Linked DNA regions of Homo sapiens. The protein of the gene in region 1 purifies or fractionates together with the protein of each later gene. This does not show direct contact. Each region holds a gene or a part of one and is shown on either strand. Other genes may lie near its edges.

Evidence for each region. The genes of interacting proteins can lie anywhere in the genome.
Region 2: the proteins of TMEM185A (region 1) and ATP11C purify together in Homo sapiens (affinity purification with mass spectrometry; 3 studies listed by BioGRID and IntAct, with this or other methods). This does not show direct contact.
Region 3: the proteins of TMEM185A (region 1) and CPNE2 purify together in Homo sapiens (affinity purification with mass spectrometry; 3 studies listed by BioGRID and IntAct, with this or other methods). This does not show direct contact.
Region 4: the proteins of TMEM185A (region 1) and PTPRG purify together in Homo sapiens (affinity purification with mass spectrometry; 3 studies listed by BioGRID and IntAct, with this or other methods). This does not show direct contact.

Annotation. Positions count from the first base shown.
Region 1 is NC_000023.11:149,606,749-149,612,243, forward strand, and holds part of TMEM185A (transmembrane protein 185A), read right to left. Parts: intron 4,716-5,495; coding exon 4,539-4,715; intron 2,087-4,538; coding exon 1,879-2,086; intron 1-1,878.
Region 2 is NC_000023.11:139,797,054-139,800,553, forward strand, and holds part of ATP11C (phospholipid-transporting ATPase IG), read right to left. Parts: intron 3,058-3,500; coding exon 3,007-3,057; intron 1,691-3,006; coding exon 1,626-1,690; intron 1,302-1,625; coding exon 1,220-1,301; intron 274-1,219; coding exon 123-273; intron 1-122. UniProt on the Homo sapiens protein: Catalytic component of a P4-ATPase flippase complex which catalyzes the hydrolysis of ATP coupled to the transport of aminophospholipids, phosphatidylserines (PS) and phosphatidylethanolamines (PE), from the outer to the inner leaflet of the plasma membrane.
Region 3 is NC_000016.10:57,144,583-57,148,869, reverse strand, and holds the end of CPNE2 (copine-2), read right to left. Parts: intron 2,786-4,287; coding exon 2,549-2,785; intron 1,320-2,548; coding exon 1,212-1,319; 3' UTR 501-1,211; downstream 1-500.
Region 4 is NC_000003.12:62,292,571-62,295,339, forward strand, and holds part of PTPRG (receptor-type tyrosine-protein phosphatase gamma isoform 1 precursor), read left to right. Parts: intron 1-43; exon of another isoform or gene 44-147; intron 148-590; coding exon 591-737; 3' UTR 738-2,769.

The sequences.
Region 1 (5,495 bases):
TGCATCACAGGAGGAGGGAGCTCAGCTCCTGGTATGTTGTTTCTTCCAAGGGCAGGAATGCCTAGAGTGTGAATATATGAAAGACTTACTTTCTGTAATTCAGGCCCAATGCAGTCCTAGTCCTTGTATAGTTGTCCCTCAGTATCTGTGGGGGATTGGTTCCAGGACCCCCTGTGGATACCAAAATCCATGGATGCTCAAGTCCCTGATATAAACTGGGAATTGTAGGGAGGGTGAAAGTGGACCATCAGATACTCTCCCTCCACGGCTCACTCCTACCTACCACTATACCCATGCTGTGGCCTTTCCACCAGCATGAAAATCAGGGAATAGCTCCCCTTGTTCAAGGCCAAACCCTTCCTGGTGCTCTAGGTCCCATTCTCCCTGAGTCCCACAGGGCCTTGCTCCATCACCGTCCCTCTGTCTACATACCTTCCCCTCACGCCCATACCTGGGGTCTAGGCTTATATGCCTGACCCACCCTACAGCTGCTATGTTTACTTCCTAAGCCAACTGCAGTCTTCTCCCTTCACTCTTCATCCACACGGCTCAAAACCAGGCATCTACAGCCTCTAGTTCTCCCCTCAACCCATCAGTATTCAGCTTTGGGCCCTCAGCTTCTATGCAGTTATGTAGTTATGTGCCCGGGCTTTAGAGTCGGGCTGACTCAAACGGAATCCTGGTCCTGCCCCTTCACATGTGGCCATGAACAAATGACTTATCTTCTCTGGACCTACCTCACAGAGTTAGTTAGTAAGAAAACTACCACATGTAATGTGCCTCGCACAATGCCTGGCACACAGTAAGTGCTCAATAAACGTTATCTGCAATTACTTTCATTACTATTATTACTAGTCCTGGTATTTTATTCATCTGCATATCCTCTATGCTTAGGGAAAAAGGGCTTGGCATCTAGTAAATACTTGATAAATGTTTATTGAATGAATAAACAAACACAGGGGCACATCAGGATAAGCTAACCAGACAGCAGGGGAGGTGCTAAATCATGGGGTCTGAGGTGGGGAGATGGTCAGTTTTGAGTGTCAACTTGGCTGGGCTATAGTACCCAGTTATTTAATCAAACACTAAGCTTGCTGTTGCAGTGAAGGTACTGACTTTGAATAAAGGAGACTACCCTCCATAGCATGGGTGGGCCTCATGCAATCAGGTGAAGGCCTTAAAAGCAAAAACTGTGGTTTCCTGGAGAGGAAAAAATTCTGTGCCAGGACTGCAGTGTCAACTCCTCCTAGGTCTCCAGCCTGTTCACCTGCCCTGGAGATTTCAGACTTGCCAGCCCCACAGTAATGTGAGCCAGTTCCTTAACTCTCTTTATACATATATCTGTATCTAACCTATCAGTTCTGTTTCTGTCTGATTGATACAGGATGTGAAGCTGGGAGAAGGCTGATGTCCTGGGTGAAAAGCTAGTGTTCTAAGTGAAGAAAGAAAAATTGTTATTTCCATCATCTTTTGTTGCCTTGTTGTCTCATGATGTAGAGTTGGTAATGATCAAGCTCTTCCTAACAAAGGGTAAGAAATTGACATCTGAATAACTGAGCAAAATATTTTACTTTTGAAAACATTCTTTTTTTTTTTTTTTAAGACGGAGTTTCATTCTGTCACCCAGGCTGGAGTGCAATGGTTCAATCTTGGCTCACTGCAACCTCCGCCTCCTGGGTTCAAGAGATTCTCCCGCCTCAGCCTCCGGAGAAGCTGGGATTACTGGCGCATGCCACCACACCCGGCTAATTTTTGTATTATTAGTAGAGATGGGGTTTCACCATGTTGGCCAGGCTGGTCTCAAACTCCTGACCTCAAGTGATCCACCTGCCTTGACCTCCCAAAGTGGAAAACATTCTTAAATATATGAAATCTCACCTCTAGTGACCTGTCATGTCGAAAGCCCCAAACGCAAGCTGCAACAGACACCGGGGAAACAAAGAACAGCGGCATGAAGACCAGGAGCCAGAAATGGCTTCCTCTCTCGATTCTGTCACAGACCAGAACTTCAAACATCAACAAGAGCAAGTGGATGCCCACTGCAATCAACATGGCTTTAAACTCCACACACGTTTCTCCTTCTGCTCTAAAAAAGGGAGAGAAGAAGAAAACACCCTCAGTTCAGAATCTCCACTATAAGCAAGCAGTTCAGGGCAAATACCAACTTATATTTATACTTTGAATTTTACTTGAAAATTTGACAAAAGCAAAGGGAAATCAGGTAGAAAGCTAACTTAAACCTAAGCTTTGGTAGGCAATCTCTGAAACATCGAAGAACTACTACATAATACAAAATGAACATTACAACCAAACCAGAATTTAATGTTTTAACCGTATAAGGATATTCTCAAAAGTAATAGCCAGTTCTTATTTCCCTGACAATGTACATAAACACTTCTGTTCACATCTTTAAATTCAACAACAAGAGTTACTTCCAAGATTATTCAAGCTGATTTGCTTCTGCTGCTAAAACCAGGCAAATACCCCTTAAGTCTCATGATCCTCATTTTTCAAGAAACCATGTAAACCACCCTTCACACAATATTATAAAAATAACTCTAGTTCTATGAACAAGTGCCAGTTATATTTCAAGATAGTAGTAACTATTGTTAGGTGCTATTTTTAAATGCAAATAAAACGTATAAATGATTTTCATTTTCCTTTCTATTCCATTAAGATAAATTAACACCTGCACATGAAAGAGAAAGAAGAACAAGAGTTAAAACTGTTCTCAAACAAAATCAGTTTAATTAGCTAAGTATCATGCACAATAACCTTAACAGATCTACAATTGAGCAATGGTAAGGCCGCTAATCAGGAAAAGGCTCTATAATGCATCTGAAAGGCCTACAATGTTTATTCAAAATACAGATGAACATTTATGATATACATGTATTGTGGGTGACAAATACACCGGAAGTTAGATCATAGAGAAAATGCTATCAGAGGTTATTCCTGTAGGACCCAACCATGTTCCACTGGTTAATGTTAACATGAGAATGACCACGCCTGTACATTCCTTACATTCAACCCCACATACACAATTCCTTTCCTTGCTCAAAACATCTTAAATAAGACCAACAAAGAGAAGTTTGAATATATTCTAAATATCAATTAGTAGAACCTAAATGTTTATTTAACTTTGCATTCTTTGAGAAGCAATTAATATTAGATATCTGAAAATATCTCATAAAAAAATAAAACACATACAGCCACACAGGTCATCAATCTTTCAAAAAAAATCTAAGAACTCTGAAACAGCTATACATGAATGTCCCTCACCTGCCAAGGCTCTCTGTGTAACTGTTTTACAGTTCTTAGACATGTATGTGATATGTAATTTACACAATCTGAATCATTTTCATATTTAGTAAACAAAAATTTAAAAAGTTGATGTAGTGGCCGGACGTGGTGGCTCACACCTGTAATCCCAGCACTTCAGGAGGCCAAGGCGGGTGGATCACCTGATGTCAGGAGTTCAAAACTAGCCTGGCATGGTGAAACCCTATCTCTACTAAAAATACAAAAAATTAGCTGGGCATGGTGGCAGGTGCCTGTAATCCCAGCTACTCAGGAGGCCGAGGCAGGAGAATCACTTGAACCCGGGATGTGGAGGCTGCAGTGGGCCGAGATCACACCATTGCACTCCAGCCTGGGCAACAAGAGCGAAACTCTGTCTCAAAAAAAAAAAAAAAAAAAAAAAAAAAAAAGGTGCGGTAGTTTCAACTTTACACTTTTCCCACATGAGCAGCTGCCTTCTGGGAATTCCTGTACTCCTCATTTTCCCAGTGGAGGTTCATAATAGCCTCCCAGTCTTAAGTCCCCCTTTTTCCCTTTATGTAGTTACAGTCTCTGTGGCAGAGAAGGGAAAGACTCTCGCAGGTCCCAGCAACAAGCAGGTTGCATGCTGGCGTGAGCCAACTCCCAGGAATTTGGGCCAGCGGAGGCATCCAAGAGCAGGGAGGGCAAGAGTTGGAAACGGTAAAGGGTACCCCTCTCCCCTGCCCCCAAAGGCTCTGCTTTCCTTCTCGGCATCCAATCTTTGACTTTCCTCATTCCCCAGCTGCTGTCTCAGGGACTCATGGTCTCCTGGTCAAGCCACCTCCCCTACACTGCTAATAGTCCTAAAGCTCTGGGACTAGGAGGGTGGGACAAGGGGAGCCCCAGTTCCAAAACTGTATTGGAGAAAGATCTTTCATGACCAAACATAATATGAGTGTCTTTTCCTAAAAACAGGGTGGTTTCATGCTGCTTAGTCTAGTATGGCATACCAGTTCTGTATTTTGGGTGCATTTTGGATTATATAGGCATCTGTGAGCTGGCTGGCAACTTACCCCCAAATGGCACTGCTTTTGTAAGAAAATACATACCAAAGACTAAATTTTCAAAAACACAGAAGAGATCTGTTAGCTTATACTATAGTTCTAAGACCCCAGATAGGTAGAAAATAAAATGGTCCTTACTTCATCAAAAGTGAGAAAAGTCAAGATATTGCTCCCTCATGCTAGAGACCAATGGGTTGTATAAAGCAGTATTACCGATATTGAGGATTTCGTGCCCAGACTCCAGTTCCAACTGAGGCTCCAACAATGACCATTAACTTCCACAGCCATATTGGAGCAAAGACAGCCCAGTAACTCCACTGTATGATGCCATCCAAACGAAGGGCCAGCAGCACAGAGAACAGCAGCAGACAGGCATAGATGAGGAATTTACTAGGAGAAAAGTAAAACGATTAAGAAGGATTCACTTTTACAAATATGTGATACTGAAATGGGGAGTAATAAGAGCCACATTTGTCAGCATGTAAAAGGAGTCACTAACTCAATAATCATTTATTGAAAAGGTCTATGGGGCAGACATAATGTGTTGGGAATAAAAGAAACATAAAGAAGACTAAAATAAGTCTCCTGCTTTCCAAGGCTTCCTCATAGAAGGAAGACCACACAGAAACATATAATACAGCACAATGTTTGTGATGAGAGCTTGGAAGAGGAAATACAGACTGTGTCTGAGGAGGCACTCAGAAGCAGAGATGTGGTGACCCTAGAGCTGGTTCCAGAGGGCAAGTAGGAAGCTGCCAGGCAGGAAAGCAAGTGAGATGAGGAAGTATTCCAGGCAGAAGGAACTAGCTATACCAAGACACAGAGACTGGAAAAGGCTGACATGCTCTGAAAATGGTCAAGTTCTATCACTAACTGATTCTATTTCTAAAAAGGCAGCCATCTGTCATATTCATATGGCATGAACATTTTAGTGTATGTATTATACTTTCCATGAATGAATAAATTACACATACACACATGCTCACGTCTCATATAAAAGGGAATTGCTACAGAGGATGTCCTTGAAATAATTAGAAATTATACTCTTGAGGACCTCTATTTCCAGCCTTGACTTAATAATAGGAATATAATTTACCTTCCCGCCTAAATAAGAAGCTTGATACAGTCTACAAAAGAACAGTTTTCAGACATTGACAACAGGCAGTGGAG
Region 2 (3,500 bases), 9.8 Mb from region 1:
CACCATGTAATCGAGAGAAAATTCAGAAGCTAACAAAAGGTGCCGTTTCCCTGAGCAGCATTTCAGTGAAGGTTGGCTCAGTCACAAAAAATAGTTTCAATTTTCAGCAGAAAACAAATTACCTTCAAGGTCTCTCGCTCTTTCTGAGTCTTTTGGTTATACCAAGGTTCATCATTGTATGGGGTACTTTGCCAAACATACTTTAGAGTAGTGCATACTGCAGCTTTGGTCAGTAAGATAAATAAATATACAATCAGGAAAGCATTAATAGATCTGAAAAATAAGATAGCATGGATTTTAAAACCAAAGACATCAGTCAGATATGAATTAAACTACTGAGTCATCTAAAGCTTTTTCTGTGTACGACGCGTAACTACAGCACAAGCCTTTGTGTATTAACCTCAGTTATCATAGCTGCAGCATTACTTTCAAGTGGCAAAATGGAAAAGCTGGCCATGAACTGTTTATTGACCACCAATGCTCCCCCAAGTGCAATGGCTGACTAGCTGAACACACCTTATTAAGGTTCCTGTAAAGTGACAGGAGAGGTACACACATGCACACATACACACACCATTACTTACTCAACCCTTATAGAAAGAGTATCTTGTCTCCATTTCCCTGAATCCTAAATGTTTGGGGTAGAGGGCACGGTAGCAATGTGAAATCCTCAAGCTCGGTGTAGGTTCTTTCAGTTTAAAAGTGGAGCTATGGAAAGGGTGCCAGTGATATACTGGTTATCCATGCCAAATACAGGGTGAGGTCTATAGCAGTGGCAACTGGCTTGAGGATCTACGAGGCACTGCTTCAATAGGTGCCAGGAGACTATTATCTATATTATAGAACCAACTTGCATATAGCAACTAAAGGACTCCAAACCATTAACTCCACTAGCAAAAAGGAATGAATTTACAGTTCAAGTAAACTCTGCCCTTTAATAGCTATGTGAGCTTAGGTAAGTCACATACCATCTCCAAGACCATTTCCTCATCTGTAAAGTGGAGAGGTTAACATGAATTACTTCACAGTGTTCTTCAGAGGACTAAACCAAATCAGACATACAAATCATTGAGCACAGTTTCTGGTACATAAACAAGTGCTTAAAATTGTAGTTGCTATTATAATTGATGTTGTTTTTTGTTATGCTTGTTACTTGGAATTACCAAGAAAGTAACTATTTTAATCAATAATGACTAAATAAATTGTGGCGCATACTAACTTTTCAACAGCAGAACGTTTCTGAGATTTCCCTTGGTAGTTCAAAGCCATTTTGGTTTCCATTCCAGTGTAAACAGCAACTCCTAAGAAATTACAGAATATAATAAAAACTAAGAACTTGTCAACCAACTCCTCACCCAGCTGGCTCTATGAATTTTTAAGTCTATAAAAGTGGGAAATCTAGGCCCTCTTCCACTCACCAGTTGTATATCATTTATAGGATAATTTTAATTATATATAGTATTTGTCATATTTCGTCTTAGTTTACCACGTTATAAATTCCCAACACCTAAATGTAGGTTTAAATTAAATGGCAAACCTGCCATGTTTACTTTTTAATATGCACTATTTATTCACAGCCTTTACAAAGCATATTTTTTGATAGGTGTATCTTAAAAATTGTTCACCATATATCTTCTCGGTATTTTTTAGCGTAGCTCCTTTCAGCAAGAGATTTTCAGGTCCCAAAGACCTAAATAAAAAATGAACACAGCTTATCCAAACAAGCCAATAGCATCAACAACTCTGGGGACAGATTTTGCCCTGACACACACCTATCTCCAAGGGGTTCAGAATGTTATCTGTCTACTTATACCATATGCTTACTCCCCAGGACAAGCTGAAAGGTCCTTCACTCTGAAGTTACTTGAGGGTACAGCACAGATGGAAGCACAGTACGGGAGTAGCCAGCAACACACATAGGCAAAAAAAATACATGGGGGGGGATAAAAGGATTATGAATCATGGATAGCAAGACGAGAACAGAACAGAGCAGCAGATCGCAAGACACAAAAGCAGACAGCCATCAATAAAAGACAGGGAATGCAAACGTCAAGGTGGGAAAAATATACTGACATATTTGGAGAGAATAAACCCTCCTTTTGGGGGATCACTGGGGACCCTGTATTTCTTTAACTTTTTGAGTGTGGCTGTAAAGGCCAAGTGGAAAAGTTGCGGTAATTAATATGATGATAGAAGAGGAAAGAAAGCATCCCTTTTTGTATGAACTGCTTGATAAATTGTATGAAGGCTGATACATACAATTCGTATACATAAAACAATTCGTTTTAATGAAGCCTTTCATTTTACGTAAGTCCAGGTAGTTCTTCCAGCATTTTACCCACTGCTTACTTTCTCAATTACTCTCCCACTGTTCTCCAGTTATAATTCCAATGTTGTCAGCCACTTCACAACCGAGGATAATAAATAACATGGCTAGAACAGGTTTGGGAATATAATCCAAAATGTCTGGAGCTCTGCTATTTTGGAAACCATAAGCATTACTTCTAACAGCCCCCTCCCCACAACACAGAGACCCTATCACCACAACTCTACCAATCACAAGGTTAGTTGCTTATTCACCTTTATATTCCTTTTTTTTTTTTTTTTTTTTTTTTTGAGATGGAGTCTTGCTCTTGTTGCCCAGGGTACAGTGCAATGGCTCAATCTTGGCTCACTGCGACCTTCGCCTCCCGGGTTCAAGAGATTCTCCTGCCTCAGCCTCCTGAGTAGTTGGGATTACAGATGTGTGCCACCACGCCCAGCTAAATTTGTATTTTTAATAGAGATTGGGTTTCACCCCGTTGGCCAGGCTGGCTTCAAACTCCTGACCTCAGGTGATCCACCCACCTCAGCCTCCCAAAGTGCTGGGATTACAGGCGTGAGCTACCGCACCCGGCCTATATTCCTTTCTATAATAGAAAGGTATTTGGCTATTTTAGTTGATTTAACAGAAAAATAGACCCCCCCCCCCAACCAAAGGACAAATTAAAGAAACAGCAAACTTACCTGGCAACAGCCTCAAGACTATTACTGTAGATATTGATTCGCCCAACAAATCTGTAAAAAGAACAAAATTGCAAATGTGTTTTCTACATCCAGGTGAAATCCATGTACCAGAAATATGAGAATGAATGAAAATACAAATAATAAAACAGAGATAGATAAAACTGTGAATGAACTACAAAAGCCTATTATATTTCTGGGGGAAAAAAAGTTATGTTGAATTGATAAGGTGTATAACATTTTCATATAATTTTTAAATAACATGATGGGATTATAGGAGCAGAAACAAAGGTTCTCAATTGATTTTCAAGTTCTGTTTAACATCATGCATGCACACAACACCTCTCTCTTTTATAAGTTTATATAAATAACGTAACTTCTATCTTGGATCATGTGAAGAAAGGTTTCTGGTGCTAAAATACAATTTTCAAAACCGCTAGTTCAGTAGTTCTTACACTTGAGTGTGCATCAGAATCACTGGAGCGCTAATTAAACCA
Region 3 (4,287 bases), on another chromosome or scaffold:
GGCTGCAGTGAGCCGAGATCACACCACTGCACTCCAGCCTGGGTGGGACAGAGTGAGACCCTGTCTCAGAAAAAGTGCCTGCAAAATACTGAACACGGAGCTGGAAACAAAGTGCTTAATAGGAGGGTTAGCTGTTACTGGTTACACGGAAGCCCGTGTCCAGGGGGCTTACCTGGAGGTCCAAGCGGGAGTCAGGTGGATAAAGGAGAAAGAGGTGTTATGTGGAATAAAGGAGGGACCTGGGAGCGGGGCTGAACTTTCAGAGAGGGGTCCTCTGGCTGGTTTCATAAAACTGGGCCTGAGCCTAGAGAGGGGGATGTGGAAGAAACAGCAGGGTCAGAAGCAGCCCCATTTTGGGTCCTGAGGCCAGAGAGGCTTTCACAGACCTCTAGGTGGCCAACCCAAACACCCGGGAGACCCAAGGAGGAGCAGATGGGTGGCTGGGACTGCTGTCCAGTTGTGGGGTAGGGATATGTCAGAAACTGGTATGGGCCTGCACATTCATTCTATTCATCCATGAATATTTATTGAGTTTGTACAATGTGCCAGGTTCTGTGCCAGTTTAACAGGTTATCACTGTTAACTGGCAGTGATTTAACAGGTTATCATCTGGAATGCATGTCCCCATGCAGAAGTGACTACACCAACTTATTAGACTTGTGGGGTGGATTTTCATTTTCCATTTCCTTTCTTAGATCAGTGAGCCCGTCAGGTCCCTGCTGAGGAAGGAGCTGACGCAGGGACGTCTGAAACTCATTTGTTACCCTGAGCATATAACAAATAGAACACAGTCACAGTATTAAAAAAACAGCAGGAATTAATTAGGTGCAGGCTACGACACGTATGCACCAAGGACATGTTTCTTTCATCAGAGTCTGCAGCTAGTTACTTGGAAAAAGCCAGTTATGATTGTAAAAATTTTATTCTCAATAACAATTCCACTAAAATTATACAAAGTACATTCAATACTTAAGAATGGCAAAGGTGGGGAGAGGAGGAGAGGAAGCCAGTTTGGCCTGGAAGCATCAACAGTTGACTCCAACAAAGGAAGCCCAGCTGGGCTGGAGGAAGTTGGGGGTGGAGGTCCGGTTGTAAAAAATAAAAAAGGGGATCGGTAAAAAAAGGCCACCCACAAGGAAGCAGAGTGAGCGTGCATGTTCCTGGGGGAGGGCAGGAGGCTCAGCTGACATGCTGCTGCTGGGCACTGGAGCTCAGGCGGGCTCCGAGTTGGTGGGGGGCAGGTTTTTATGCTTGAAATACTGCACAACTTGTTGGGGCAGCTCCGCCAGCACAGCTTTGGCCAAGGTCTCTTTTGCTGCCTGCAGGGTGGAGGAGGGTGGGGTGGGGAAGAGAGAGAATAAGGATTAATGACCGGAAGTTGTGAGCGGCACTATGCCCAGAGGGCTGCTACAGCAGGTGTCCATTGAGGACAAAATTAGGGCTGCGGGCCAGGGCTGTCTGCAAGTGGCATCCCTCATCTCAGCCCAGGCCAGGCCTGAAATTCCCCCTGATCGCAGTGCCTTCCTTTAGGTTAGGTGTAAGTGTTACCTGGAGCACTTGAGATGCTTGGGAGTAACGGGTTAGGATGACTCCGTCTGCGGGAAGCACCTATGTGTCCGGCAAACATCTCCTGAGCACCTTCTTGGCGGGAATAAATGGGCCTGACAGTATGGTTCACTAGTGAACAGCCAGCCACAGGCCAGGCACATGGAGGTACTCGGTCACCGACCTGTGCATGAAGGGGTGACCGATGCCCAGGGTTTGTCCTTAGGAAGCGAATGCTCCAGAGGAAGGAGTAGAACCATCGCAGGCAACCCCAGAGGATGCTGGGAAGAGAGGTGAGGGCCACTGGGTGCAAACCAGCATGGGCAGTTCTTGCTGAGGCTGGGTTAAGCCCCCAGCCAGCAGTATGGGGGTGGCATTACAGTACAGCGGTACAGTGGAGAGACTGCTCCCCTATGGGACTCCTCATGGACCCTGCTGCTAGGGCAGTGATCAGGAGGCCAACCCCGGCCTCCTTGTGGGCAGATCTGGGATCACCTGCAAATAAAGCCAGAGCCACTTCCAGGAACAAGGCTGGGGACACCATTCTCCCAGGCAGAGGGCTTTAGGGAGAGGAGGTCAACCTAAGATGACTGGGAGGCCTTGTTTTCCGTCTACAAAATGAGGGGGCTTGCTGGGGCGTGATGATCAGGAAAACCCCTCTCTCCTCCTGCACTTTACACCACATGGATAGCCCCAGCCTCTCATCAGACCCCACTAGAGGGCAGGTCCTCCAGGAAGCCCTGCCCCAGAGCCTCAGGCTAGATGCCCACGGCTCCATGTTCCATCAGTTTGTGGAAGCAAGTGCTCACACTATCACAATGGCCACCACCGGGGCAAGGCCTGGCACGGCGCCTGGCACATGGCAGGCCCTCAGAAGAGCATAGTCAATGGAGTGGAGAAGTCTAGGATTGGGCCAGACAACCCCAAGACTCTCAAGCTTGATTATGAGCTATGGTGGCTGGGATCCTGTAACCGCCCCCTCCCAGCCCAGGCCCACACTCACGTTGCGGAACTCTCGAAAGGGAACGAACTGCACAATATCGCGGGCTGCCTCCTCCCCCGTGTGGGAGCGCAGCATGCGGCTGTCCCCATCCAGGAACTCCATGGCAGCGAAGTCCGCATTGCCCACGCCCACGATGATGATGGACATGGGCAGCTTGGAAGCCTGCACCACGGCATGCCGTGTCTCCTCCATGTCACTGATGACCCCGTCCGTGATGATGAGGAGGATGAAGTACTGCTGCAGGGAGGGGGCCAACGGGGCACTCAGCAAGGTCGAGGCTCTGGCACCCCTTCTCCCTCCCTCCTTCATCCCAAACCCTCCGAGTCCTGGAGGAAGGCAGTGCATCTTACCCAGCTGCAGCCAAGTCCCAGACAACTCACTATGCGTCCTGCTCTCAGCACCCCACCCCTGCAGGCCTCTCATGCTCTAAACTCTGACCTGGTCACAGCAGGAAGTACAAACTGCTCTCCCCTCCTGCCCTGTGTGTTATCTTAGACTCCCCCTTGGGGCCTCTGAGAGCCCTGGACTCTGGGCCTGGCCTTGCCAGTTGCTATACTGTGGGACTCTAGGCAACTGACTTGACTCGTAGTGCCTCAGTTTCTTCATCTGCAAAGTGGGAGTTGTTGCAGATAATGTGCCTGACGTGGCAGTGGCCCAGTCAGCTGCATTCCCGACAGGCCCACGGCTGGCGCAGGGGGACTCATCTGGCTGATGGGCTGCTCTGGGACCGGTCTCCCCCTCTCTGCTGCACCTGGGCATGGGCACCTGTGACCCCCTCCATTCCCTACTCAACACGACAATCTGAGACACCTTGCGGGAGCTAAAGCAGGTCGTCTGGGCCAGGGCTTCCAGGAGTGTGGGACTCTGCTGACAAATAAGTGGATTTGAGTCACATCCCAAACACAGCACTGAGCACCATCAAGTCATCAAGTCACCCCGGAAGAGGACTGGTTTGCAGTGGCCTTTCAATTCTATGAACTGCACCCAGGAGCAAGTCTTGGTTTGGTACTACTGTGTCTTTCACGTCTCTCTAACATTTGCTAAGCTTCCTTATCAACGGAAAGGGAAGGCAGGAAGCCCAGAGCTTGAGGAGACAATAGTCTCCAGCTAGGCTTTAATACCATTGTACAGCTTGTTGTGTTTATTTTTGTTACTCTCTATTTATGGCAAGTGATACTGCTTTTTTTCATTTACAATGGGATATAGAGTTTCTTTATAAATTAAATTTTAAAAATTGAATAATTAGTGTGGGAGATATATAAAATACAAACTGTGAAGTGGGGCCGGGGTGTGCCTGAGTGAAGTGCAGGAAGGCTCATTGGACCATCTGAGGGTGAGGGCCCAGGATTCCAAATTGGCCAAGAACTCTTTTTTCTTTTTTTTTTAGACTGAGTCTCGCTCCGTCGCCCACACTGGCACAACCTGGGCTCACTGCAACCTCCACCTCCTGGGTTCAAGTGATTCTCCTGCCTCAACCTCCCAAGTAGCTGGGATTACAGGCACCCACCACCATGCCCGACTAATTTTTGTATTTTCAGTAGAGTTGGGGTTTCACCACGTTGGCCAGGCTGGTCTCAAACTCCTGACCTCAGGTGATCCACCCGCCTTGGCTTCCCAAAGTGCTGGGATTACAGACGTGAGCCACCGCGCCCAGCCAAGAACTTATTTTCAGCTCAGCTCTGTCCTTAGTACCCGCTGACCCCTTTAGGGGAAGCTCAGTTTCCCCCATCCGTAACATC
Region 4 (2,769 bases), on another chromosome or scaffold:
TATGTGTAAAACCTGTACTACATCAGTTGAAACTCAGACTCACAGTTTAGAGCAGTAGTTCTCAATTGGGGGTGATTTTGCCCCCCAGGGGACATTTGGCCATGTCTGGAGACTTTTTTGCTTGTCACAACTGCAGATGGATGGCATCTAGAGGATACAAGCCAGAGATGCTGCTAAGCAAACTACACAGCACAAGACAGCCCTCAACACCATAGAATTATGTGGCCCAAAATGTCAGTAGTGCTCAGGTTGAGAAGCCCTGCTTTAGAGGATAGTATTCTCTGGTTATCTTCATTAACCAGATATTAACCAGATATTGGTTATCTTCATTAACCAATAATGATTGTTCATTAACAATCAGCACTGAGAATTGGTTCCAAGCTAACAGAGATCAAAAGGACATGAAGAAGGTATAGGTCTTGACTATAATAAATTCAAATGATTTTTTTTTTAGTTTTTTTAGATAACATTTATGCTATTGCTGTTTCTCTAGTGTGTTTTTCACAATTACCATTTTAATTGGTATTTCCACCTTATGTGAAATCACTAAACTGTTCTTTGGCTCAAACTGTCTTCCTCTTGTTTTTCAGGAACAATACCAGTTCATCTATAAAGCAATGCTTAGCTTGGTCAGCACTAAAGAAAATGGAAATGGTCCCATGACAGTAGACAAAAATGGTGCTGTTCTTATTGCAGATGAATCAGACCCTGCTGAGAGCATGGAGTCCCTAGTGTGACTGGAATCCTGAAAGGGCACTTAATTTGTAAACTTCTGAAGACTGAGAACTTTTTTGAGGCCTTTTTTGCCAGACTCTAGGTTATACAATAACCCAGTTACTTTTTTACACTGATAAAAGTTTTGATATTTATTTTTTGCCATTTTATGTCTTAATGGTATCCTACTGAGCATTTGCACCTCTGTTCATTTCACACAGTGAAACGCAATTTTACCTAGTTTGCACTATATGATCAGTGTTACTGCCTATAATCTTATACAACAGCAAACCCTGATGTGACATTCCATGACGACATACATGCTACTTTTTTTTAGTTCAATACAGTGAAGGTCTTTGTTATGACAGTGAATATTGCTTTTATTATTATTATTGCTGAAGTGGTTGCATTCTACTAGCAGGCAATGCTGTACTTTTCTTCAGTCCTCCTCTCCTTTTTATTTTAGGCACTGTTCAATACTGTATGCCTTCTGTATTTTAATGGAGTGGATAGCATTGTTTTCTTTTACAGACTAGCAGGCTACTGGGACCTAAAAAGGTCTGTTAATGTCATGGCCTTGAAACAGTTCCATTTATGCTGGTTAAGAGATCCCTTAAGAAGTTAGAAGGCTTAAGAACTGCTTCATGTGAACATCCCTTATTAGTTACAAAGTTATATTCACAGTTTTTTAAAAATGTGTCAAAATAAAGGATAACTCTGTATTACAGCTTTCACAGTAGCTATGTGGACAATGTGTTATTTCCATTTTGACTCTCTAAAATAGCTACATCCTAAAATCAGGGCTATCTTTAACAATAGCAAGATAGCAATATTATATACAACTCAGTTATGAGACCCTTTAGTTATTCTCCATTAATGCTTCTTAGTTTGTAATACCATACCTCACAGTAGGTAGAAGAATGAAAACTTCTGCAGGTGTGTAATTTTGAAACTAGTCCTCTAAAAATTCCCTATTACTCCTATAGCAATCTAATAAAAACTACCTACATAGTTACTGTTTTCTTTCCTTCTTTGCCAAATGTTTTATAATAAATCTCTTAATTACATACATTTTTCTACTTAAGATTAAATTGGAAATACTGTCTTAGCAAAAGTCTTGGGACTATCTAAACTCCCACACATAGATAAATCTGATTTGGAGAGAGAAATTTAAAATATTTAATTAAAGGTGATACCCACATTTTCAAGTTTTTAAAAGAGGGAGATGGCTTTGTATGCTTTTGTGTAGTTTAGAACAGATACACATTAGTAAAAGATACCAATAATCATTAGAGCTCAAGGAAGTTATTAGGTGCAGCCTCTGGAGCCATACTCACGCTGCAGTGCATAATGGGAAAATTAGGAGCATTAATAAGAAATTTCAGTAGTGTTTGTAAGGAAAATAAGCTACTTACTGAGATCTGTTTCTTCTATTGCATGTTTGCTTTTGAGGGACAGCTTCTGTCAAAAGTGAAATCATCACCAGAACTGGGCCTGTTAGGAAGAATAGGGTTTTATTTACTTTTTATGTCAATTAACTTCAACAAAAAGGCCACGCTGGCTGCTGTCATGCCATCTGGGTATGCATTAAACATTAATGATGATCAGCACTGAGGTTCTATTTATCTTGATTTGGCTTTCATAAAGTTTGTCAGAATGGTGCTGGAGGACCAGAAGTGCTAAGGAGAAAGAAGCTATGGGCCAAGTTAAAGAATTTGAATGCAAAGGCCAGGTCAATGGAGTTTTCATAAACTACATAATTTACCAGGGTTTATCTCATCTTCTCAATACATAGATTTAACAACATGGAATACTCTGCTTTTCAAGAGCTGCGTAAGCTAGTCCTGAGATAAGATGTTCAAGAGAGCATGCTAAGTTGCATGTGCTAGATGAGAGACACCTTTACAGCCCCTCCGCTCCAACCAGAGGTGACACAGGAAGCTCTGTAAAGTTCAAGTAAAGCTTGAACACAGGAACACTACAACTGCCAGATGCTGAGGAGAATCAGGAAAGCAATGAGCTAGACTCTTTTTTTAGTCAATTAAGTGGGTTGTT